Linked DNA regions of Homo sapiens: regions 2 and 3 are each linked to region 1. Evidence: fine-mapped expression QTL. A gene starts in region 1. Each other region holds a variant in brackets. All regions are shown on one strand. Distances are between the middles of the regions.

Region 1 (8,185 bases):
CCTCAGATATGAATCACGGTTTGGCGCTGAATGAGATGGTGTCAGAAGGTTGCACGGGATCAAACAGAGAAAGAAAGCAGATGTGGGACTTCCTTCTTGCCTCTTTTTGGAGGAAGTGAAATCGCCGTTCAGCAACGCAGATGCAAAGTTTTTGTAGACAAGATGCCTCTTTCTTTTAGAGATCAGTGTTAGCCACAGGCCATTACTCCTCAAGTGTGGCCATCTGGGGAGGTTATGTGACTGCATATGCATTCCAGTACAAGAAAAAGCAAAGGAAATTTCTGGTGAACAGAATAAAACAGAAAAGTTGTGGGTAAAATGCACTGGTCACCACTTCCTCATATGTGACTGTTATGAGCAGTTCTTCTGCTCCTGGTATGTAAAATTAAGTTAAGCCAAATTTCCCATCATTTGCACTTCTCCTTTCACTGTTTCCCAGAGAACTGGAAAGAGAACTTCCTTGAGCACAGCAGTCACATAATCCATAGGCTTTGGGTCATTTCAGGAATATAAAAATTCCAGAACTAAGTTTTTTTGTTTGTTTGTTTGTTTGTGTTTTTGACAGTCTCACTCTGTCTCGCAGGCTGGAGTGCAGTGGCACGATCTCGGCTCACTGCAGCCTCGAACTCTTGGGTTCAAGCAATTCTCCTGCCTCAGCCTCCCAAGTAGCTGGGATTACAGTTGTGTGTCACCACTACATCTGGCTAATTTTTTTGTATTTTTAGTAGAGATGTGGTTTCTCCATGTTGGCCAGGCTGGTCTTGAACTCCCGGCCTCAAGTGATCCATCCACCTCGGATTCCCAAAGTGCTGGGATTACAGGCATGAGCCACCCTGCCTGGCCTGTTTCTTTTGTTTTTTTTTTACATGGTTGTGCATTGGTTATTTTCCTGAGCACAAAAGTGATGATTACCCAATACCCATCAGTGTTTGGTACTTAATAGGCTCTGAATACAAATTTCTCGAGTTAATAAATACATGCTCATTGTTGAAAACTCAAAAAACACAGAAAAGAGGAAAAAATTAAAATAATTTAGAAAAACCTCTCAACCAGATGTAATTACTGTCTATGCATTGGCGTACATCCCTCTAGTTATGTACATAGTTGGGGTCATGCTGAATGTTTATCATTCTTTTTTTTCATAACATTATTGTCAGAGATATTTGAACCAGAATAACTCCATCTCGAATAGGGGCTGGGTAAAAGAAGGCTGGGCTGCATTCCCAGAGGGTTAAGTATTCTAAGTCATGGGATGAGATAGAAGATTGGCATAAGATACAGATACAGATCACAAAGATCTTTCTGATAAAAGAGCATGCAGTAAAGAAGGCAGCCAAAACCCACCAAAACTAAGATGGCGACAAGAGTGAACTCTGGTCATCCTCATTGTTCATTATACACTAATTGTAGTGCATTCGCATGCTAAAAGATGTTTCCACCAGTGCCATGACTGCCAATTTCCAGAAGTTACCCTGTATAGTCTAAAAAGGAGAGGAACCCTTAGTTCTGGGAATTGCCCACCTCTTTCCCAGAAAACTCATGATTAATCCACCCCTTGTTTAGCATATAATTAAGAAATAATGATAAGTATCCTTAATCAAGCAGCACATACTTCTGCTCTGCCTATGGAGTAGCCATTCTTTTGTTTCTTTACTTCTCTAATAAACTTACTTTCACCTTACTCTGTGGACTTGCCCTGGTCCTTCTTGCACAAAGTCCAAGAACTCTCTCTTGAGGTCTGCATTGGGAACCCTTTCCAGTAACATTATGGCATAAGAATTTCTCATGTTATTAAAATAGTTTTAAATAATTGTGATGGCTATACAATATTTTGTCTTATGGGTACAATGTAATTTTACCGTTGTTGGCTCTTTCTGCTATTTTCAATTTTTTTTTCCTATGATAAAATGAAGACAAAGTCTATAGAATAAAAAATACAGTGACTAGACGTCTGGAGACATAGGAACACCTGAATATAGAATTGTCTGTATTAACCTTGCTTGTATTCTCATTTCAGGAGAGTGAGCTCTCAACAGGGTCTACTAAAGAGAAAGCAGAGGGTAACAAATTGTCAGCTTGTCTCCAAAGCAGTGTGAGAGTATTCTAATTTTGATGAACCATCCCAGAAATAGTTTGAAGAGAAGTATGTAGGTATTTCAACAGACTTATTGGAAGTACTCAAGGGCATTCAACTCTCATTTTTCTAATTCTGGGATCATGCTGCTGAGGTATAAATTTATGGCTAACTGATTTATAAATTAACTAGAACATCCTGTGCAAAGATTTGGTTCTTTAGCCAAATACAGACTAGGCACTGGTTCATAAATTAATCCCTCTTAGGTGGCTGGTGTCACTTCCCAGAAGCATGATAACTGTGGCACAAATAGAACCAGAATGGCCAGGTGTGGTGGTGCATGACTGCAGTCCCAGATTCCTGGGAAGCTGATGTGGGAGGATTGCTTGAATCCATGAGTTCTGGGCTGTAGTGTGCTATGCCAGTTGGGTGTCTGCACTAAGCTCAGCATCAATATGGTGGCCTCCTTGGAGCAAATCACCAGGTTGCCTAAGGAGGGCTAAACGGGTCCAGGTTGGAAATGGAGCAGGTCAAAACTCCTATGCTGATTAGTAGTGGGACCATGCCTGTGAATAGCTACTGCACTCAAGCCTGGGCAATAAGCAAGACCCTGTCTTGGAAAAAAAAATATACCCGGAATGCAGTATTTCTAGATTTATAGAACACCATCATGGTTTTGATAATAACTGGTGAAGCCCAGCCTGGGAAGCAAGATAACTAGCCTCATTCTTTCTAAAAACACTTCTTTGCTGCATTAATAACCAACAGAGGAATTCAACTCCTTGGAACCTTCCTTCCAGGATGCATACAGGTGATGGTGTAGTGATACCTGTGAATTGCAACATGACTTTTTCAGTCTCAGTACTGTATCTAGTTCATGGTATAATCTTGGGAATGTTAAGGATGCAACTGGGAGCTTCACTAAGTCCTCTGGATTCCCTGGCTACCACTAAGCATACTAAGACATAGCCTAATTGTCCCAAAGAATTAACAGAGTTGGGTTTCAATCAAACCTGTCACCATTGTTTTAAATTATGGGCTCTAATAGAGCTGGCATTGGAACTTGAAAAGAAACTCATGTAATTATATTCTTCTAATGATATAGCAAATGAATTTTTGCTTTTAGAAAAAATATTGGGTAGTGAAGAGCCACATTCTTTTTTATCCACCTAAACTGATTACACACACTTAGCAATGGAACAAAAAATTAAAGGTATAACAGGTACCAACTTCATACAAAATGCACACACACAGAGGATATATAAATGTGTGTACACATACACATATGTTCCTTGGCCCCTGTCTGCTGTTGATAAATCAAAATCTAGATAATAGTGTGGTTTTGTCTTGAACATTTCTATCTGAATGAAAACAACACAGTGTAGGAGTTCCTTGCCCTCGCTTTGAATGCTTAGGACAATGCAAATTGGGGTTTCCCAGCATATTGCAACCGAATCCTCTTCAGGCCCTGTCAGCTGTGCTCCAGACAATGCCATCCCCAAAGACAGAATTGCTATGGTTCATAACAGTGAAACCCACAGGACAAGTGTCCAAGAGTTTCACTCCTTTCTTTTGTGGAAACAGCCTCCACCCTCAGGCAAAGAGGAAACCCAGGGTTGGCCTTGACTAACAGCTTGCATAGGTATGGTGGAGCCAGGGTGTTTCAGTAAGGGTGGTGTGGTCATTTGCCTCTGCATTTATAGTAAAAGAAAACTGATAATGGAGTCCCAAGAGACAGCAGTCAGGGAAAATATGAAACATCAAGTCCAAGAGAATGAGCAAAAAGCAAAGCCAAACTTTCTGGTGGAGGAAGCAGTAGGGTGTGGGGTCGGGATTTTTTTCTAAGTGCACACCCCTGCAGCAGAGTAACCAGCCAGAGCTGGGGGAAAAATTAGGATAGCTACCTGTTAGGCATGTAGGGGTGTGTTTGCATGTTTAGTACGGCATAAATTCTTCAAAGACCTGATGGTCTTTAATATTCCAACCAACTCTCGTTTCCCCATTTTGTCATTAAATTAGCTTAAAGAGGAACTTGTAGCTTTTAGAGAACTCATGAGTTTTCCGCTTCATCATCTGCTTCTGTTTTCTCCATCTTAGTTTGCCCAAAGCTTGCTGGCCGCTGTGTAGGGCTGGTGAGTGGCTGGGGCTGTCTGAGCCATGAACAACTTCAGGGCCACCATCCTCTTCTGGGCAGCGGCAGCATGGGCTAAATCAGGCAAGCCTTCGGGAGAGATGGACGAAGTTGGAGTTCAAAAATGCAAGAATGCCTTGAAACTACCTGTCCTGGAAGTCCTACCTGGAGGGGGCTGGGACAATCTGCGGAATGTGGACATGGGACGAGTTATGGAATTGACTTACTCCAACTGCAGGACAACAGAGGATGGACAGTATATCATCCCTGATGAAATCTTCACCATTCCCCAGAAACAGAGCAACCTGGAGATGAACTCAGAAATCCTGGAATCCTGGGCAAATTACCAGAGTAGCACCTCCTACTCCATCAACACAGAACTCTCTCTTTTTTCCAAAGTCAATGGCAAGTTTTCCACTGAGTTCCAGAGGATGAAGACCCTCCAAGTGAAGGACCAAGCTATAACTACCCGAGTTCAGGTAAGAAACCTCGTCTACACAGTCAAAATCAACCCAACTTTAGAGCTAAGCTCAGGTTTTAGGAAGGAACTCCTTGACATCTCTGACCGTCTAGAGAACAACCAGACGAGGATGGCCACCTACCTGGCAGAACTCCTGGTGCTCAACTATGGCACCCACGTCACCACCAGTGTCGACGCTGGGGCTGCTCTTATTCAGGAGGACCACCTCAGGGCCTCCTTCCTCCAAGACAGCCAGAGCAGTCGTAGTGCCGTGACCGCCTCTGCTGGACTTGCCTTTCAAAACACCGTGAACTTCAAATTTGAGGAAAACTATACCTCGCAGAATGTCCTCACCAAGAGCTACCTCTCAAACCGAACCAACTCCAGGGTGCAGAGCATTGGAGGGGTTCCTTTTTACCCAGGCATCACCCTCCAGGCCTGGCAGCAGGGTATCACCAACCACCTGGTGGCCATCGACCGCTCTGGCCTGCCGCTGCATTTCTTCATCAACCCCAACATGCTACCTGACTTGCCAGGCCCCCTGGTGAAGAAGGTGTCAAAGACAGTGGAAACTGCTGTGAAGCGCTATTATACATTCAACACCTACCCTGGCTGCACAGATCTCAATTCTCCCAACTTCAATTTTCAGGCCAACACGGATGATGGCTCCTGCGAGGGGAAAATGACCAACTTCTCTTTCGGTGGGGTTTATCAGGAATGCACTCAGCTCTCAGGGAATAGGGATGTCCTCCTCTGCCAAAAGTTGGAGCAGAAGAATCCACTCACTGGTGATTTCTCCTGCCCCTCTGGCTACTCCCCGGTGCACCTGTTATCCCAGATCCACGAGGAGGGTTACAACCACCTGGAGTGTCATCGAAAGTGCACTCTCCTCGTCTTCTGCAAGACCGTGTGTGAAGATGTGTTCCAGGTGGCAAAAGCTGAATTTAGGGCTTTTTGGTGTGTGGCCAGCAGCCAAGTACCTGAAAACTCAGGACTGCTTTTTGGGGGCCTCTTCAGCAGCAAGAGCATAAACCCCATGACAAATGCACAGTCATGCCCAGCCGGCTACTTTCCACTGAGACTCTTTGAAAACCTCAAGGTATGTGTTTCTCAGGACTATGAGTTGGGAAGCAGGTTTGCGGTCCCCTTTGGCGGGTTCTTTAGCTGCACAGTTGGGAACCCCCTGGTAGATCCTGCTATATCCAGAGATTTAGGGGCACCGTCTCTGAAAAAGTGCCCCGGGGGCTTCAGCCAGCACCCAGCCCTCATCAGCGATGGATGCCAAGTGTCCTATTGCGTCAAATCCGGGCTCTTCACAGGAGGGTCCCTGCCCCCTGCCAGGCTCCCACCTTTCACCCGGCCACCCCTCATGAGTCAGGCTGCCACCAATACTGTCATAGTGACCAATTCTGAGAATGCGAGATCCTGGATTAAAGACTCCCAGACCCACCAGTGGAGGCTGGGAGAACCGATAGAGCTGCGGAGGGCCATGAATGTCATCCATGGGGATGGTGGTGGTCTGTCAGGAGGGGCTGCAGCTGGGGTCACAGTGGGGGTCACCACCATTCTGGCTGTTGTTATCACCTTGGCCATCTACGGCACCCGGAAGTTCAAGAAGAAAGCATATCAGGCAATTGAGGAAAGGCAGAGTTTGGTTCCAGGCACTGCAGCAACTGGAGACACCACTTACCAAGAGCAGGGGCAGAGTCCAGCTTAAATCTCTCCCCGAAAATGGTTTCTCTCATCTCCAGTGTGGTCATTGCTGACCACTCTGTTTTCCTAAGCATTGAAATGGCAAGTGCAACCAAAAGTAGGTATATTCGTGACTTCTTGTTTAGGTCTCTGGGCCAGGAAATTCATACTGTTACATGGATAAGGTTGGGATTGGGGAGAGGGAACAGTTGGGACTAGAAGCAAAAGTGATTCTGGGACTAAAATAGGAAGCAGATGTCCTTTCCCAATGTGTGTTGCTGTCTTCACCTGAATGCATTTGTGTAAAAATAGCGGAGGGACAATGTGAACATTTGTATTTGGAAGCTATGAATTTACTCTGAAGTTTGCAGTTGTTTCCAATTTGTGAGCTCTAAGAGTTTCTGCCTGTAAGAACTACTCTCCTTTTATTTTGATTTTTAAAAACCTGTCTGAATTTCACACTCTTAGAGCCTGGAAGAGCCCTGAAAAGACACAAGTCTTGCCTGGCTACTGCTTTTTAACTTTGAGGGCTCTATGTTGACAGACTGTTATCTCCTCTGGGTGACCTCAAACATCTGAAAAGAAAGATGTTGCCTGTGCCAATTCCACTTTTTCCAGCTGCCCCTTGATGAACACTCCCTTATACCAGACCACTCTTGGACTTCTGACTGGTGTCATCAAGTCCTCAGAAAATATTTTAAGTTATTTTAAGTTATTAAGGAAGGGATGATTTGGAGACAAGGAGTAATGAAAGATGGGTAAAAACTGGAAAAGATTCTGGTGCTAAGTACTACCCCTTCATCTTCCATGGATGGTCATTACCTTTCCTGTCCTCCTGTTATATGAACACACACACACACACACACACACACACACACACACACGCACACACATACCACATTTCAATAAGTCTTCATTGTTCTGGGTCCTTACCTTTCCTGTCCTCCTGTTATATGAACACACACACACACACACACACACACACACACGCACACCACATTTCAATGTCTGCATGGTTCTGGGGGTAACAAAGGCAAGAAGTTAAAGTAAGACCACATTTGAGTATTACTTACTCTGTAGAATCAAAACAGAGTAGTTAACACCAATTATGCAAACTACTTTTTTTTCCAGCAGAAAGGGAGCTGACATGATCAAATCCATGTTTTCAAATGAACTGAAAAAGGCATCCAGCACCACTTATAACACATTTATTTCAGTTCCAGGCTGACAGCCCTGGGGCATCTAGCAGGATGCATAATTGTCATCTGGTGAGAGTTGGGACTTTGCTCAATTTTAATACCAATCTCTCCTGATTGTAATTACCTCCACTACTTTCATGATCCCCCTACAATATTTTTTTAAATGATATATTTATTCACTGAATCAAATGTCATTAATGAGTTATCTTCTGTGGAGGATGACTGTTCTCTTTGTTAATGTTCACAATCAAGATCTTGGGCTGAGAAGAGGCCCTTCACCCAAGGAGTTTGAAGTATCACAGTGTGTGGGAAGGTGGGAACCAGGATACCCATTCATTTCCAACCGAGACACAGAGAAGTGAGTCACAGAATTTGAGCCCGCTCTCTTGACTGCCCAGCCAGAGACACTGATTTCTGTAACCTCTTCACTTGATCCTGCCTCTTAAGCATTAAAACATTCTCCTAAACCTCTGAGTGTTTTGTGGGTTCTGGGTGTTTTGTACATTTTAGCCAAGCTAACCACTTGTCTGCAAGTACTGACTTTCCTATGAATTCTTTGAAGATTATTGAGTCAGAAAGGAAAAATATAGCCCCAAATTCCCAGGCTTTTAATGCATTACATTAACTGC
Region 2 (8,185 bases), 50 kb after region 1:
GTTCATATAAGTTGTTTCTAGTTTGGGCTATTATGAATAAAGCTACTATGAACACTCTCATCCAGGTTTTTGTGTGAAGGTAAAGTATCCATTTCTCTGTGATAAATGCCTAGGAGTACAATGGCAAGGTCATAGGGTAGTTGCATGTTTAGCTTTTTTAACAAACTGCCAGTTTTCTAAAGTGGCTGCACCATTTTGAATTTTCACCAGCAATATACCCATGATCTGGTCACTACATCTTCACCATCATTTTTTGGTCAGTATATTTTATTTTAGCCATTTTGGTAAGTGTGTAGAGTTATTTCATTGTTTTTAACTTGTTTCCTTATTGACTAATAATGTTGAACATCTTTCCATGCGTTTATTTGCCATATATGCTCTTTGATATCTGTTCAGGTCTTTTGCTGGTTTCTGTTTTCTATTATTGAAATTAGAGAGTTCTTTTTATATTCTAAATATTGGGCTGGGCACAGTGGCTCAAGCTTGTAATCCTAGCACTTTGGGAAGCCCAGTCAGGAGTTCGATTGCCTGAGCTCAAGAGCTGGAGATCAGCATGGGCAACATGGGGAAACCCTGTCTCTACAAAAAATACAAAAATTAGCTGGCCGCGGTGGTGCAGGCTTGTGGTTTCACCTACTTGTGAGGCTGAGGTGGGAGGATCGCTTGAGTCTGGGAGGTTGAGGCTGCAGTGAGCTGTGATGGTGATGTTGCACTCCAGCCTGGGCAACAGAGTGAATCCTAGTCTCAAATAAATAAATAAATAAATACTCTTGGTGGATATATAGTTTGAAAATATTTTTTCTCAATCTGTAGCTTATGTTTTCCATGCTCTTCATAGCGTCTTTCACAAAACAAAAGTTTTTTAATTTGATAAAATACAACTTACCAAATTTTTTTTTTCTAAATGGCTTCTGTTTCCCATGTTAATTTTAAGAACTCTTTGGCTAGTCCTAAGATTTGAATATTTTTTTCCTCTGTTTTGTTCTAAAACTTTCATACTTTTACAACTTCCATGTAAATCTACAATCCATTCTGAGTTAAATTTTTGTGTATGGAGTGAGGTTTGAGTGTCTTTTTATGTGTTTATTTGCCTATAGATGTATTGTCCTAGCGCTATTTGTTGAAAAGGCTTTTCTTCCTCCTTTGAATTGCTTTTGAGTCTTTGTAAAAAAATCAGTCTGGCATATTTGTGTAGATCTATTTCTGGTTTCTCTAGTCTGTTCCATTGACCTATATGTCTGTCCCTTCACCACTACTGCACAATGTTGATTAATAAGCTGTATTAATAAGCTATGTAATGTCTTATTGTAAATTGGGTAGATTGATTCATCTCACTTTATTCTTCTTCAAAATTGTTTAGGCTATTCTGGATCCTTTGATTTCCACATAAATACTAGAATAATCTTGTCTATATGTGCAAAAATTCTTGCTGGGATTTTGATAGGAATTGCATTGAAGCTGTATATCAATTTGAGGAGAATTGACATATTTTTACTGTGTTAAGTCTTCCAATCCATAAACACGATATGGATATGCTTCTCTATTTATTTAGATCTTCTTTGTTTTATGTGTTTTCTAGTTTTCAGCATACCTATCCAGTTCATTTTTTGCTCAATGTACACTTAAGTAGTTCATTTTGTTTCAGAGTGATTATATTAATAAATGGCATTCTATTTTTAATTTTGGTTCCACGTACTTATTGCTGGTACATATAAATACAATGGATTTTTGTATGTTTATTTAGTATCTTGTAAGCTTGCTAAGGAGTCCAAATCTGGGTCTAAGAGTTCTTTTATAGATTCCTTAGGAGTTTACATGTCATCTCCAAATAGGGACAATTTTGTTTCTTCATTTCTGATCCTTATGCTTTTCTTTTCTTTTCTTTTCTTTCTTTCTTTTTTTTTTTGAGACGGAGTCTTGCTCTGTCGCCCAGGCTGGAGTGCAGTGACGCAATCTCGGCTCACTGCAAGCTCCGCCTCCCAGGTTCACGCCATTCCCCTGCCTCAGCCTCCCGAGTACCTGGGACTACAGGCGCCCGCCACCACGCCTGGCTAATTTTTTGTATTTTTAGTAGAGACGGGGTTTCACTGGGTTAGCCAGAATGGTCTTGATCTCCTGACCTCGTGATCCGCCCGCCTTGGCCTCCCAAAGTGCTGGGATTACAGGCGTGAGCCACCGCGCCCGGCCGATCCTTATGTTTTTCATTTCCTTTTCTTGCCTTACTTAGAATTGTATTACCTGGAATTTCCAGTACTATGTTTAATACAGTTGTGAGAATAGACATTCTTGCCTTGTTTCTGATCTTAGATAACATCTAGTTTTTCACTAAGAACTGTGATAATAGCTGTAGGTGTTCATTTTAGATGTTCTTTATCAAGTTGAGGAAGTTTTCCTCTATCCTTATTTTTCTGAGAGTTTTTTAAATCATGAACAGATATTGAGTTTTATTAAATGCTTTTTTGGTATCAATTGATATGATCATGAGATTTTGTTTCTTCAGACTGCTAATATGGTGGATTGCATTGATTTTCAAATACTTAATGAGATGTGCATCCCTGGAATAAACCCCACTTTGTCATAGTGTATAATTATTATAAAATATTGCTATATTTCATTTGTTAAAGTTTTCAGGGGGCTGGGCATGGTGGTGCATACCTGTAGTCCAACTTCAGAGGTTAAGGCAAAAGGGTACCTTGAGCCCAGGATTTCAAGGTTACAGTGAGCTATGATGAGCCACTGCACTCCAGCCTGGGTGACAGAGGAAGAGCCTGTCTCAAAAAAAAAAAAAAAAAAAAAAATTGGCGGTGGTCTATATTTATAAAGAATCTTGGTGTATAGTTTTCTTTTCTCTTTCTTTTGTTAAATTAAGCTTAGCCTAAAGCTACCTCCTTACATACTTTAAGTTTAACCTAAACGTTTCTCAATACATAGTGAACTATAACTTAACCGAATGTGGAAACAGACTAGCCTACTTTTGTAGCAACTACCTGAGTCTCAGCCAATCACAGAAGCAATACTTCAACCACTCACAGGAGGCCAACTGTTCCAATAGTGTTCAAACAAGGTAAATGCTGCGCTGTAGCCAAGGCAACTGTTTCTTTTCTTTTCTTTTTTCTTCTTTTTTAAACTTTTTATTTCAAAATACTTTCTAAAATTGTATTTTAAAATTGACACATGATTGTACATATTTATGGGGTACATAGTGATGTTTTGATACATATAATATATAGTGATCAGATCAGGGTAACTAGCATATACGTCCACCTCAAACATTTATCATTTCTTTTTGTTGGGAACATTTAATATCCTCCTAGATATTTGAGTTGCTCTCTTATTGTATAGAAACAAGGCTGCTGTTTCTATACCTCACTTTCATTTTCTCTAAGCTACTTTCCTTTCTCTGTCCATAAATTATCTTCAACTAAGTGGCAGTGTTGGAGTGTCTCCCAATCTATTCTAGTTCTGTGGAGTTGCCTGATTCTCGAATTGTTCTTTGCTCTGTAAAATTCTGTTAAATTAAATTTGTCTAAAGTTTGTCTTTTAATACTTTCATTTTGGGAGGGGTGGTATCAGAATAATACTAGCTTCATAAAAATGAATTGGGAAGTTTTCTACCCTCTTCTATTTTCTGAAACAGACTGTATAGAATTGGTGTTAATTCTTCTTTAAAAGTTTGATAGAATTGTCCAGTAAAAGCATCTAGCCCTGGAGATGTCTTTTTCAGAAGATTTTAAATTACAAATTCAATTTCCTTAATAGAGCGCTATTCAAATTACCTATTTCATATCGGATGAGTTGTGGTCATTTGTATTTTTTAAGGGATTGGTCCATTTTATACAAGTTGTCAAATTTATGTGTGGAGTTGTTCATAATGTGTGCTTATTATACTTTTGATATCTTCAAGGGCTGTGGTGATAACATGGCTTCATTCTTGATGTTATTGGCAATTTGGTTTTCTCCCCCCACCTCTCCCTTTCTCCTTCCCTCCTTCCCTGCCAGTCTCGCTAAGCAGTATGTCAATTTCATGTATTTTTTTTTTCAAAAGAACCAACTCATTGTTTATTTTGGCTCTTATCTTTATTATTGTCTTAATTTGGCTACCTATTTTGCTCTTTTTTTAGATTATTATAGTAAAAGCTGATATTATTGGTTTGAGGCTTTTCCTCTTTCCTAATGTAAGCATTTAGTGCTATTGATTTTCCTCTCACCATGGCTTTGGCTGTGTCCCACAAATTTTGAGACGCTTTATTTTCACCTTTATTCAGTTCAATGTCTTTTTAAATTTCTCCTGAGTCTTCTTCTTTAACCTACGCACTATCTGAGGTGGGAGGATCATGAGGTCAGGAGATCGAGACCATCCTGGCTAACAAGGTGAAACCCCGTCTCTACTAAAAATACAAAAAAAAAAATTAGCTGTGCGTGGTGGCGGGAGCCTGTAGTCCCAGCTCCTTGGGAGGCTGAGGCAGGAGAATGGCATGAACCCGGGAGGCAGAGCTTGCAGTGAGGCGAGATCGCACCACTGCACTCCAGCCAGGGTGACAGAGTGAGACTCCGTCTCAAAAAAAAAAAAAAAAAGAAAGAAAGAAAGAAAGAAAGAA[AGAAG/G]TGAGAAGTGTGCTGTTTGGCTTTCAAATGTTTGGAGGTTTTTCTGTTATTGTTAGGTTATTGATTCCTAGTTTGATCCCATTGTAGCCCAGAGGACACACTCAATATGATTTCAACTCTTTCAAATTTGTTGAGGTTTGTGTCATGGCCTAGGATATGATCTATCTTTGTATTCACTCTGTGGGTGCTTGAAAAGAATGTGTACTCTACTGTTGGATGAAGTGTTCTATAAATGACCAGTAGACCCTGTTGGTTTATCATGTTGTTCCGTTCTTCCATATCCAGGCTGATTTTCTGTATAGTTGTTCTATAAGTTGTTGAGAGAGGAGGATGTTGAGTTCTCTAACTATAATTGTGGATTTGCCTATTATCCTTTTAGTTATATCAGGATTTGCTTAACATATTTTGTCACTTTGTTGTTTTGTGCTTGCACACCTGTAATTACTGTGTCTTTTAGGTGATCAATCCTTTTATTATTATATAATAGCACTCTCTGTCTCTGGTAATTTTCTCTGATCTGAAGTCTATTTTATTTAATATTTATAGTGGTGGACTTGGACCACACATTATCAGCACCACTTCTGGAGGATCTGGAGACTAAGGTCAGCCATATCTACATGAATAGCCCCCAGTAAAAACCCTGACACTGAAGCTCAGGTGAGCTTCCCTGGCTGATGATACTTCATGTGTATTGTCACACATTGTGGCTGGGAGAAATAGCACTATCTATACAACTCCACTGGGAAGAGACAGCTGGGGCATAAATCTGAAAAGACTGAACAAGCTCTATATGAAGAAAACTACAAAATTCCGATAAATGAAATCAAAGAATGACTAAATACATGGAGAGATAGTCAATGTACATTTATAGAAAGGCTCAGTATTGTCAAGTTATCAGTTCTTCCCAACTTGTTCTACAGATTCATTGCAAATGCAATCAAAATCTCAGCAAGTTAGTTTGGATGGGAAGGAGGGAAATTGCTCAAATAAATGGTATTTTTTCACTTTCAAATTCCAGTTGGTACAATGCACAGCTGGAATTTGAGAGATAATTCTCTCAAATAAATAAAATAATAAATAAAGGGAGAATTTATTTTATTTGGAATTTCGGAGAGAATTCTCATTTTTCTCACAGCAATTGATTTAGGGGATGTAACTGATTTTTACTCTCTCCCTTCTCTGGTGTCCATTCTATATCAGCCTCAGCCTCAGGTAATGCTTCTCCTAGTATTGGTGTCTTACCTGGTGGCAGGACCCAAATCTTCATTTCTGAGGGGTCTGAGACCCTGGCTGCCATGCTATTTTCAAGCTATGGTGGTGTAATTGTCTGTTTACTATCAAATTTGGTCAAGTAGGGTCCAAATGGATCATGTGAGTGGCAAACACATTTCTCCCTGCCCTTACTGTGTCACATAAGCACTTCCTCCTCCTGAAGAACTGGGTTAATTGCCTGAGCCCAGGCAATGACTCTTCTTGCATACTGGTCTCTGGATACAAAGTCTTTGCAGTGACAGGCAGAAGCTATAGCTTAGAGTTCAGCAGGACTCTTTCCGTGTCCCCTGGCAGAAGTGTGCCCCCACAGGGAATCAGGACCTTTCATCCTACAGAGCCCTGACCTGGGGGCTGGCAGGGGCATGGATGGCAGAGGGAGAGACAGGAAGCACAAATTCCCTAAGTGTGTTATTAGGGATACAGATAAAGCTAAGCAGGGCCCTTCCTGCCTCTACCCTTTGTTTCCCAGGCTGATGTATAGGCCTACATAGGTCAGATACCTGACATGGGTCTCGCTGGACTAAAATCAAGGTATCATTATGGCTCAGTTCTCTTCTGGAAGGTTTAGAAGAGAATCTGTTTCCTTGCCTTTTCTTTCTCCTAGAGCTCACTCACATTTCTTGGTTCATGACCCCTTCCCCCATCTTCAAAGCCAGCAGTGTTGCATCTCTCTGTGCCTCTTTCATGGTCACGTTTCCCTCTGAATCTCTGATTCTCCCTTTTCTCACCTTTAAGAATCATCGTGCTTACATCAGGCTATCCAGATATCCAAGATAACCTTGCTATCTTAAACTTAGATGATTAGCGGTCTTAATTCCCTTTTCCCATATAACCTACATGGTCATATTCCAGGGATTATGGTGTGAACATCTTTGGGAGCCTGCTCCACACATTTGTCATACAACTCACTTGTGGTCTCCTTTCCTGCTCATGCTGCACAATGCTAGGCATTCCAACTCCATCATACGAGAGACTGGTTTTTTGGCCACACTTGACATTATGACTTGATAATTCTGATAGAACTCACTAAAAAATGGCGAGATTTGGATGCAGAGTCACTTAATGTCTCATGGTTAGGTGCTCCCTACCAGGGCCCAAAAGGTATATTCAAACAGTATATAATTCAAAAGGAGTTGTTATTCAAAAGATATATAACTATCCACTGCAAAAAACACGGGCTTTCTCCAGAACCCCAAAACTTTGCCTTGTAATTTTCCCACTTGGGCTTGCTATCAACTCCACATGGTATCTTTTCCCACATCTGATACCAGAGGGTCAGCCAGGGCACATGGTCCAAGCAGCTGTACTGTTTTCACTATAGCTTGGATCTTCTGGGACCCTTTCCTAATCCAGACCCCACTCAAGGCTGGCAGCCTATAGCATCCCCTGTAAATTGGCTGAAACAGTATACCCATGCATGGAATATGCTACCTTCAGAACCCAAAGAGATTTATCAGGCAGTGTACTTTCTTTTTCTTCATGGGGTATGCAAGATTCAATAATTCATCCTTTTCTTTGGATGGGTGGTCTTAGCATGCCCCTGATTTAGGGGGCCTCTGATTCCTCACGGGGTTTATTTCCTGTCACCTGAAATGCATGTGTACCGGCACCTCCAAGGTAGTTGATTACTTCTTGCCATCTGGCCTAATTAGCATGTTAACATCGATATAGTAGACAGGTGTGATGGTCTGAAGGAAGTACAAGTAGTCCAAATCTTTTCTATCTATATTATAACAGAAGGAACACTATATCTAATATAGTCCTGGGGCAAAAATACACATGTACACTGTTGTCTATTCCATGTGAGTGGAACTATTTATGATCCCTTTTTCTGATAGAGATAGAAGAGAATGCATTAATTCAACTGATGGCCACATACCATGTACCTGATTAAATGTGCATTTGCTCTAGCAAAGATTCCACATCTGGCACAGTGGCTGCAACTGGGCCCACCAGTTGGTTGATTTTGTGATAGTGAATGGTCATTCTCCACAACTGATGAACTAAATGCATACATGACAGGGAGCATCATTTCTGTATCCTTTAGATCCTTAAGGATGGCACTAAGTTTCATGCCTTGTGCCCATTGGAGTCATCCAGTGAAAAGTGGAGCAGAGTGCCCTAAAGACTTACAGTGCTGAGGAGATAAAAATTGGAGTTCTGAATTCGATAACGCAGGAAGTGGGAGGACACTAGTAAACATCCCAAGGCCTCAGCTGGGGCCCTTCCAGGCTACACTCTAGAAGTGAAGCCAACCAGAGGTAGACAGAGCCTTGGCATTATACAACTGAGTCTCAAGTTGATTTTATCC
Region 3 (8,185 bases), 430 kb before region 1:
TAAATGACTAGAAGGCTGGAATTCAACAGCCTTGGGTTCTGGCTCTAGCTGTGGCTATGTAACTCCAAACACTGAGTTTCTGATCACTTTATAGATTCTCTAAAAATCTATAAAAATTGGCTAATTATTTCTTTTCTTCCTCATTGAGCTTTTATAAAAATAAAAGAAAATACATTAAATCTGAAAACACTTCTTTTGAGACAGGGTGGGTCTCACCCTGTCACCCAAGCCGGAATGTGGTTGTGCAATCATAGTTCAATGTAACCTTGAACTCTTAGACTCAAGCAAACCTACCACCTCAGCCTATTGAGTAGCTGGGGACTACAGGTGAAACTTTTTTATTTGTTGTAGAGATGAGGTCTCACTACGTTGTCCAGACTAGTCTTGAACTCCTGGCCTGAAGTGATCTTCTGCTTGGCCTTTAACCTATCTTGGAGTGCTTCTCACAGTATATTGAAATGGCCAATTAACCCATATCTTCTCCGCTATACTTTAGATCCCTGAGGTTCTGTGTCCTTTTGCCATTTGTTTTTAGCCCATGGTGTAGTGTAAGCATTTAAATATTTATGGAATTAGTTAAAATATTGATGTTTTAGCATAACTCTTGGTATGTATTTGGGAGTGATTTTTTTTTACACCTTTGGTTCACACAAGTCATGGTGTTTCCAATGCAAATTGAGATGAAAAAGTTCTCAGTAGATAGCTTAGAATTCATTATTAAGACTCTAGTCATATCTGCCAGACTTGTGCCTTAAGTGGTTGAATATACAAATGAACATCCTTCCATCCATGCCCCTGGTGGGGGGTAACTGAAGTAACACGTGCCAGGATATAATGCTTTTATTTGTTTTTTGTAGGTGCTGCCATGCTTACTGAGTCCCTTCTCTCTCCTTCTCTATCATCTTCCATCAGTGAGTATCACCAGCCTTTTGCGACAGCTAATGAACCTACCTCAAAGTGCAGCTACACCAGCACTCTCCAATCCTCACCTCACTGCTGTGCTCCAGAACAAGGTGATCTTGCCCTTTTAACTCCTTGAACTTTGTGAAATGTCTTAATTTGCGTTATAGATTAAAATAATGGCTGCTGTATCTCTAGCAACTTGGGAAAAAGGCTTCTTTCAGTCAAGAGTTACATTAAGCTCCTAGTAACCGGCTAGAAATAACAGTGTTTTCAACAAAATGGGATTTTATGTGTCTAGTGTGAAATAAATTTGATTTAGTAGCTCGACAGAGTCATCAGGGATCCAGGCTTTTTCACTTTTTTTCCTCTGCCATTCTTACCAGTGGCTTCCATGTTCATTATTCCTCATGGTCCAAGATGGCTGTGGAATTCATGATTCAGCTTTACATCAAGAAGGACAGGTGGATGTGGAGGGCAAAAAGATGTGGACCAGCTGTCCATCTTCCTTATTGAGACCTTTTCCAGGAGTTCTAACCAGAAACTTCTACTTACTGTTAATAGCCAGGACATTGTCACATGGCCACACCTAAGTGCAGGGAAGGCTGGAAAATATCTTTTAGTTTATGCCATTGTCATGACACATAAGAGTTCTGATAATGGGTAGGAAGGCATATTAGGCAATTAGCAGTCTCTGTCATAACACTATGAATAGTAGAATCATCCATTTCATATTTTATTTGCATCAAGTTTAAAGATTCAGAGATTCCTAGGGGAAACATAATATGAAATAAAGAATATGAATTTTTAGTCCTTCCCTGCTACTGTCTAGCTTTGTGACCTTGGACAGATGATATCACATTGCTGAATCAGTTTCCTGGTCTATAAGATGGAGGTGATGATGTAGACTTCATAGAGTTGTCCTGGTACTTAAATGAGATAACAGTTGTAAGTGGTTCGATATAATGCCTGGTACATAGTAGTTACTCATTAAGGGCCATTCTATGTACAGTAGAGATGAAAAAGTGGTCTCAAGGCCTCTTGCTCCTTTGCACCAGAAAACCTACCAAAGCATGACTCTAAAGGTCAGTGTATCAGAGGAAGAAGAGGTGACAGTGCCTCTGGGGTTCTGGAGTGATCCGGAATGTGCCTTTCTGTTATTTGGTCTCTTAGTTTTAATTTTAGTAAAGGCAGTAGTATTTTTTTTCTGAGAATAACATGAAAAGGGATTTTTTTTTTTTAAATCAGGGTCTTCTCTGTCACCCAGGCCAGAGTGCAGTGGCAAGATCTCGGCTCACTGCAACCTCTGCCTCCTGGGCTCAAGCCATCCTCCCACCTCAGCCTCCCAAGTAGATGGGACTACAGGCACATGCCACCACGCACAACTAATTTGTGTATTTTTTGTAGAGGTGGGGTTTCGCCATGTTGTCCAGGCTGGTCTCAAACTCCTGAGCTCAAGCTATCAGCCTGCCTCGACCTCCCAAAGTGTTGGGATTACAGGTGTGAGCTACTGCAACCGGCCATGAAGGGAAATTTTGTGGAAAAGTGAGTGAGTCTAGAAAGTTGGAATGGAATCCCAAAGTACTGCCAGCCTTCCTTTTATGATCCATTTATAGGTATGAGTCATACATTTAACCTAAACCTTCTTGTCCCTATTTGTATTTTCTTTTTTGAGACAGGATCTCACTCTGTCACCCAGGCTTCAGTGCAGTGGCACAGTCACAGCTCATTGCAGCCTCAACTTTCTGTACTCAAAGCGATCCTCCCACCTCAGCCTCTTGAGTAGCATGTGCCACCATGCCTGATTGACTTTTTTTTTTTTGAGACAGAGCCTTGCTCTGTCACTCATGCTGCAGTGCAATGGCGATATCTTGTCTCACTGCAACCCCTGCCTCCCAGGTTCAAGCAGTTCTCCTGCGTCAGCCCCCAAGTAGCTGGGATTACAGGTGCCCGCCACCATACCAGGCTAATGTTTGTGTTTTTAGCAGAGACAGGGTTTTGCCATGTTGGCCAGGCTGGTCCGGGGCTCCTGACCTCACGTGATCCACCTGCCTCAGCCTCCCAAAGTGCTGGGATTACAGGTGTGAGCCACCACACCCAGCCTCCGATTGATTTTTATATTTTTTGCAGAAACAGGGTCTCACTATGTTGCTCTGGCTGGTCTCGAACTCCTGGACTCAAGCAGTACTGCCTCCACCTCCCAAAGTGCTGGAATTACAGGCATGAGCCACCATGCCCATCCCCAGCCCCCTGTTCATTTTTTTTTTTCTTTTGAGATAGAGTCTTGCTCTGTCACCCAGGCTGGAGTGCAGTGGCGCGATCGCAGCTCACTGCAAGCTCCGCCTCCTGGGTTCAAGCCATTCTCCTGCCTCAGCCTCCCGAGTAGCTGGGACTACAGGCACCCGCCACCACGCCTGGCTAATTTTTTGTATTTTTTAGTAGAGGCAGGGTTTCACCGTGTTAGCCAGGATGATCTCGATCTCCTGACCTC[T/C]TGATCCACCCGCCTTGGCCTCCCAAAGTGCTGGGATTACATGCATGAGCCACCACGCCCGTCCCATATTTTAATCCTATGCCCCAAAGACTACATTTCCTGATTTTACTGTCCACTAAATAAAACACATTTTTATATGTTACTTTTTTTTTTTTTTTTGGAGATGGAGTTTCACTCGTGTTGCCCAGGCTGGAGCGCAATGGTGCGATCTTGGCTCACTGCAACCTCCAGCTCCCGGGTTCCAACAATTCTCCTGCCTCAGCCTCCCAAGTAGCTGGGATTACAGGCATGTGCCACCGTGCCTGGCTAATTTTCTATTTTTAGTAGAGACGGAGTTTCACCATTTTGATCAGGCTGGTCTCAAACTCCTGACCTCAGGTCATCCACCCACCTTGGCCTCCCATAGTGCTGGGATTACAGGCATGAGCCACCACACCTGACCATTTTTATATATTGCATACTCTAAAGCATGTTGCTGAATTTTAATTATAGATACGGTGTATACATCTGTTTACCCTTTCTCTCTTTTTATTTTTTAGATTTTTATTAACATTCTGTCTAAGACTTTGTATTTCCAGATAGAGATGTGCTTTTTAATGGAAAGTTTCTCTTTATACCATGTTTATTTCAGTTGTGTTTATTTGTATATTTTCCTACAGTTTACACCTTGTTTCTTAATTCAAAATATCTTACTGTAATGCTTTTTTCTTATTTTTTCCTGATTTTTAATTTCTGTACCAAAATTGGTCTTCATTTACTTTCTTTTTTAGCCTATTTCTGTTCTCATAAATAGGAGAAAAGTCAAATTCTACATTATCCATGGCAAGGAAAAACCATCTTTTAACCTCAGCATGGGGAACAGAGAGGCGTGTTGGACACCATGACTTTCCGTTTCTGTTGGCTGCGCCTGGTCACTGCTATGGCAGAATAAAGCCTGGAGAGAGACATAGCCTTTCAACTCATGCTTGTCTGATCTTTACCTGGTTTTACAGAAAAGCACAGTAGTGAGGTTATTTTGATTTAGAGCTGTTCCCCATCTGATGCCAGGATCCCTTCAACAGTGGTGGAGGAGGTTTAGACACAGTGTTGAGTTTGATTCCCTCTGTCTTTTCTCGTAGTTTGGCCTGTCACTGCTCCTCATCCTCCTGAGCCGTGGTGAAGACCTACAGAGTTCAGACCCTGCTACAGAATCAACACAAAATAATCAGTGGTCAGTGTGGACTGTTTCTTCTCTTATTTTAAGTTCTTTGAGGTAATCTTTTAAATTTTTTTCTCCTGATATTATTATGGGTCTTCCCTGTCAGGACGGAGGTGATGTTCATGGCAACACGAGAACTTCTGCGGATTCCCCAAGCAGCCCTGGCCAAGCCAATCTCTATACCTACAAACCTAGTGTCCCTCTTTTCTCGCTATGTTGACCGGCAGAAACTGAACTTGCTGGAGACAAAACTGCAGTAAGTTTGAAACAGGAGAGTTTCACATCTCACTAAAGTTGGGACTTTAGAAGTTATGGTTGGGAGGCTGGGTACGGTGGCTCACACCTGTAATCCCAGCATTTTAGGACACCCAGGAGGGTGGATCACTTGAGGCCAGGAGTTCCAGACCAGCCTGACCAAAATGGTGAAACCCTGTCTCTACTAAAAAAATACGAAAATTAGCCAAGTGCGGTGGTGCATGCCTGTAATCCCAGCTATTCGGTAGGCTGAGGTATGAAAATCATTTAAACCCGGGAGACAGAGATTGCAGTGAGCTGAGATCACGCCACTGCACTCCAGCCTGGGTGACAGAGCAAGACCCTGTCTCAAAAAAAATAAATAAAAAGAAGTTATGATTGGGGTGGAGGGGGGAATAAAACTGAATTTGGTGGAAGAGATTGACTTTTTATTAACTATTTGTGTATCTGTTAGATATAAAACACTGAACTGGGTACAACAGGGCCTTCATAAAAGATGACCAAATGCTAAGGGTAGAGAAATAATCTCGGGTATTTTGTTATGAGAAGTCTTACAAAGATGTAACTGTAATATGAAAGATTGCCTTCTGTTTTAACTCATTTATACAATTTTCCTTTCTCTCCTTTGTACTCCTAGGCTAGTTCAGGGGATACGATAAAAGATCTCCAAATGTGTCCTGTACCTCCTTTTGGCTGCCACCTGCACTGCTGCCATCACCAATGGAGTGTTTTTAATGAGGGAAGGAAGGTAGCTTTTTCCCCAAAGCAAAGTCTTGTGGGATCGATTCCTGTTTACAGGGGTTGTCTCTCTAAATGTCAGATATTTCCCCACTGCTCTATGAAATTTGGCTGGGTGATACTTCTGCTGGTTTCTTTACCTTCTGTGTTACAGTTCTGCATGTCCTACTTTTACTCAGTTCTGTTTTGCATTTTCTTTGCCCTAGAGACACAAGTGTAATCTCTCCCTTTATCCCTCCACTACTCCACCTCAGAGTAGATTGTAGCCTGCCAAAGGATTCCTTCCCTCATCCTATTGAAGTTGTTTTTTCATTGCCCCATATTAATATGACTATAGAAGAGCCAATTAAGTAGAAATCAAGATATACACACACACATAGATACACACACACACACCCCATACATGTATTTATGTGGTCTTCAGAGGGTCCTTAAAGAATGAATTTTAGATTGAAAAATATTTAGTTGTCTCATTACCTCTTCTAAACACAAACCAGCTGATGTATTTTAATCTGTTTCTGTTCTATCTTGTAATTAATTTGGTGGGTTCTACTTGTTTTAACATAAATAAAGAGTATGCAGCACGTTTAATAAAATCAGAACTCTTAATTGGCTTATGCCCAGGTCTAGGCTGAGAAGTCCTTTTTCTTCTTCCCACCTTTATTTCCTTAGTTTCTGTCCACCTTAATCGAAACAACACATGGTTATGTCTTTTTCCTGCTACAACTACAGGGTACTTGAGCCTTTCCCCTCAAGTGCATTCGAAGTCACCCAGGATGATCCTCACTAGTAGCCTGCTTTGGCAGTGTGGCTTTTTGCACACTTGCCCTGTCTTCCTGAGACTACTTCAGTAAGCCATGCTTCCTTCTTCCCCACTTTTATTTGGTGTCATGAATAGAAACTTCCAAATGTAACCATGGAAGCTAAGTTTGGCCTGCTTTGCTTTTTAGTCTCCACACCATGGGCAGAACTGCTGTCTTTACTACTTCATCTCACCCAAGTCCCGTTCCCAGGCAGCCAGGGGCCTGGGTTTGAATAATTGCAGGGCCAGCCTGCCATGATCTTTCTCACTTACTCCTCTCCCATTCAGCAATCAACCAGACTAAGGAGTTTTGATCCCTAGTGATTACAGCCCTGAAGAAAATTAAATCTGAATTAATTTTACATGGCCTTCGTGATCTTTCTGCTGTTCTTACTTTTTCGAATGTAGTTGGGGGGTGGGAGGGACAGGTTATGGTATTTAAAGAGAATAAACATTTTGCACATACATGTATTGTACAACAGTAAGATCCTCTGTTAAAACCAGCTGTCCTGTTCTCCATCTCCATTTCTTCCCATGCTGTAACCCCAGGCTCCACCAGCTGTTCCCCAGTGATGTTACCTAGCTTCCCTCTACCGTTGTCTACTGACCATTTCCACTACATGCCTTTCCTACCTTCCCTTCACAACCAATCAAGTGAATACTTGATTATTATCTCTTCCTTACTGTGCTTTATCTTTTTTGTTTGGATTGGTTCTAATTAATGAAAATAAAAGTTTCTAAATTTACATTTTTATAGGGTATTGTAAATAAAAACAAATTGTATACTTAAAAATGAGTGCCTGCATTTCTACTTTGTTACCTCTGAATATGATTTTTATGTTTCTAGCATATTTAGATAGACTGTCAACTTCTTGATGTAGGGGATTAAAGATATTATTACCTATATTTTTACCTTTTTAATTTTGTTGCAAAGAAGACAAATATTTTTATATAATAACTTGTCTTTAAAAATCTAAGATGCTTTCAGTTTCTCCTCCCCCCATTTTAACTGTACGACAAAATTATAAATTGTAGTAGATAAACTGTAGTTTGTCTTCTCCATCCTGCCCATCTCTAGGCATTGAGGAATCTGTCCCCCTTTAAGAGACTCATGTAGCCCAATGAGGCATTCAGCTGCCTTCATGGATAGTATTTACTTAGTTCTGAGCATATTGTATTTCAAAACTCATCTCTTCAAAGGAGATGGGAAAAGGTTGGTCATTCTTTATAGTGAATTTATTTTTATTATTTCAGACTTGAGTATCATTTTTACTCTAAAATGCTCAAGATAAAAGATTCAGCAAACACATAGAAAGGGGCAAAAAAAAGTGGGGTTTTGTTTTCAAGACAGGGCCTGTGTCACTCAGGCTGGAGTGTAGTGGCACAGTAGCACAATCACCACTCACTGCAGCCTCGATCTCCCAGGCTCAAGTGATCCACCTCAGCCTCCCGAGTAACTGGGACTACAGGTGTGCACCACCACACCTGGGTAATTTTTATACTTTTTGTAGAGTCGGGATCTCCCTATGTTGCCCAGGCTGGTCTTGAACTCCCAGGCTCAAGTGATCTTCCCACCTTGGCCCCCCAAAATGCTGGGAGTACAGGTGTGAATCACTGCACTCAGCCTGAAGGTTTTCTTCTTTTTCTGAGATGAGTTTCTCTGTCACCCAGGTTACAGTGCAGTGACACAATCATGGCTCACTGCAGCCTCTACCTCCCAGGCTCAAGCAGTTCTCCCACCTCAGCCTCCCAAGTAGCTGGGAATACTACAGGCGGGTGCCATCATGCCCAGCTAAATTTT

Evidence for each region. PIP is the estimated chance that this variant, and not a neighbour inherited with it, causes the effect.
Region 2: its variant is fine-mapped to the expression of MPEG1 in whole blood (INTERVAL, PIP above 0.99).
Region 3: its variant is fine-mapped to the expression of MPEG1 in whole blood (INTERVAL, PIP above 0.99).

What each region holds. Positions count from the first base shown.
Region 1 is chr11:59,208,912-59,217,096 of GRCh38, reverse strand. MPEG1 (macrophage expressed 1) reads left to right here and starts at 4,170. Exons shown (of 1, transcript NM_001039396.2): 1 at 4,170-8,185. The coding sequence starts at 4,232. The coding sequence ends at 6,382. It also overlaps the pseudogene RN7SL42P. RefSeq lists an enhancer at 3,994-4,193.
Region 2 is chr11:59,159,089-59,167,273 of GRCh38, reverse strand. No RefSeq gene overlaps it. Among named protein-coding and RNA genes, the nearest start is that of DTX4, 9.0 kb to the left of the region's middle. The variant AGAAG/G (reference allele first, on the strand shown) is at 4,599.
Region 3 is chr11:59,635,708-59,643,892 of GRCh38, reverse strand. PATL1 (PAT1 homolog 1, processing body mRNA decay factor) reads left to right here. Exons shown (of 19, transcript NM_152716.3): 16 at 858-1,013; 17 at 4,510-4,601; 18 at 4,696-4,845; 19 at 5,482-7,177. The coding sequence ends at 5,503. Among named protein-coding and RNA genes, the nearest start is that of OSBP, 24 kb to the right of the region's middle. The variant T/C (reference allele first, on the strand shown) is at 3,392.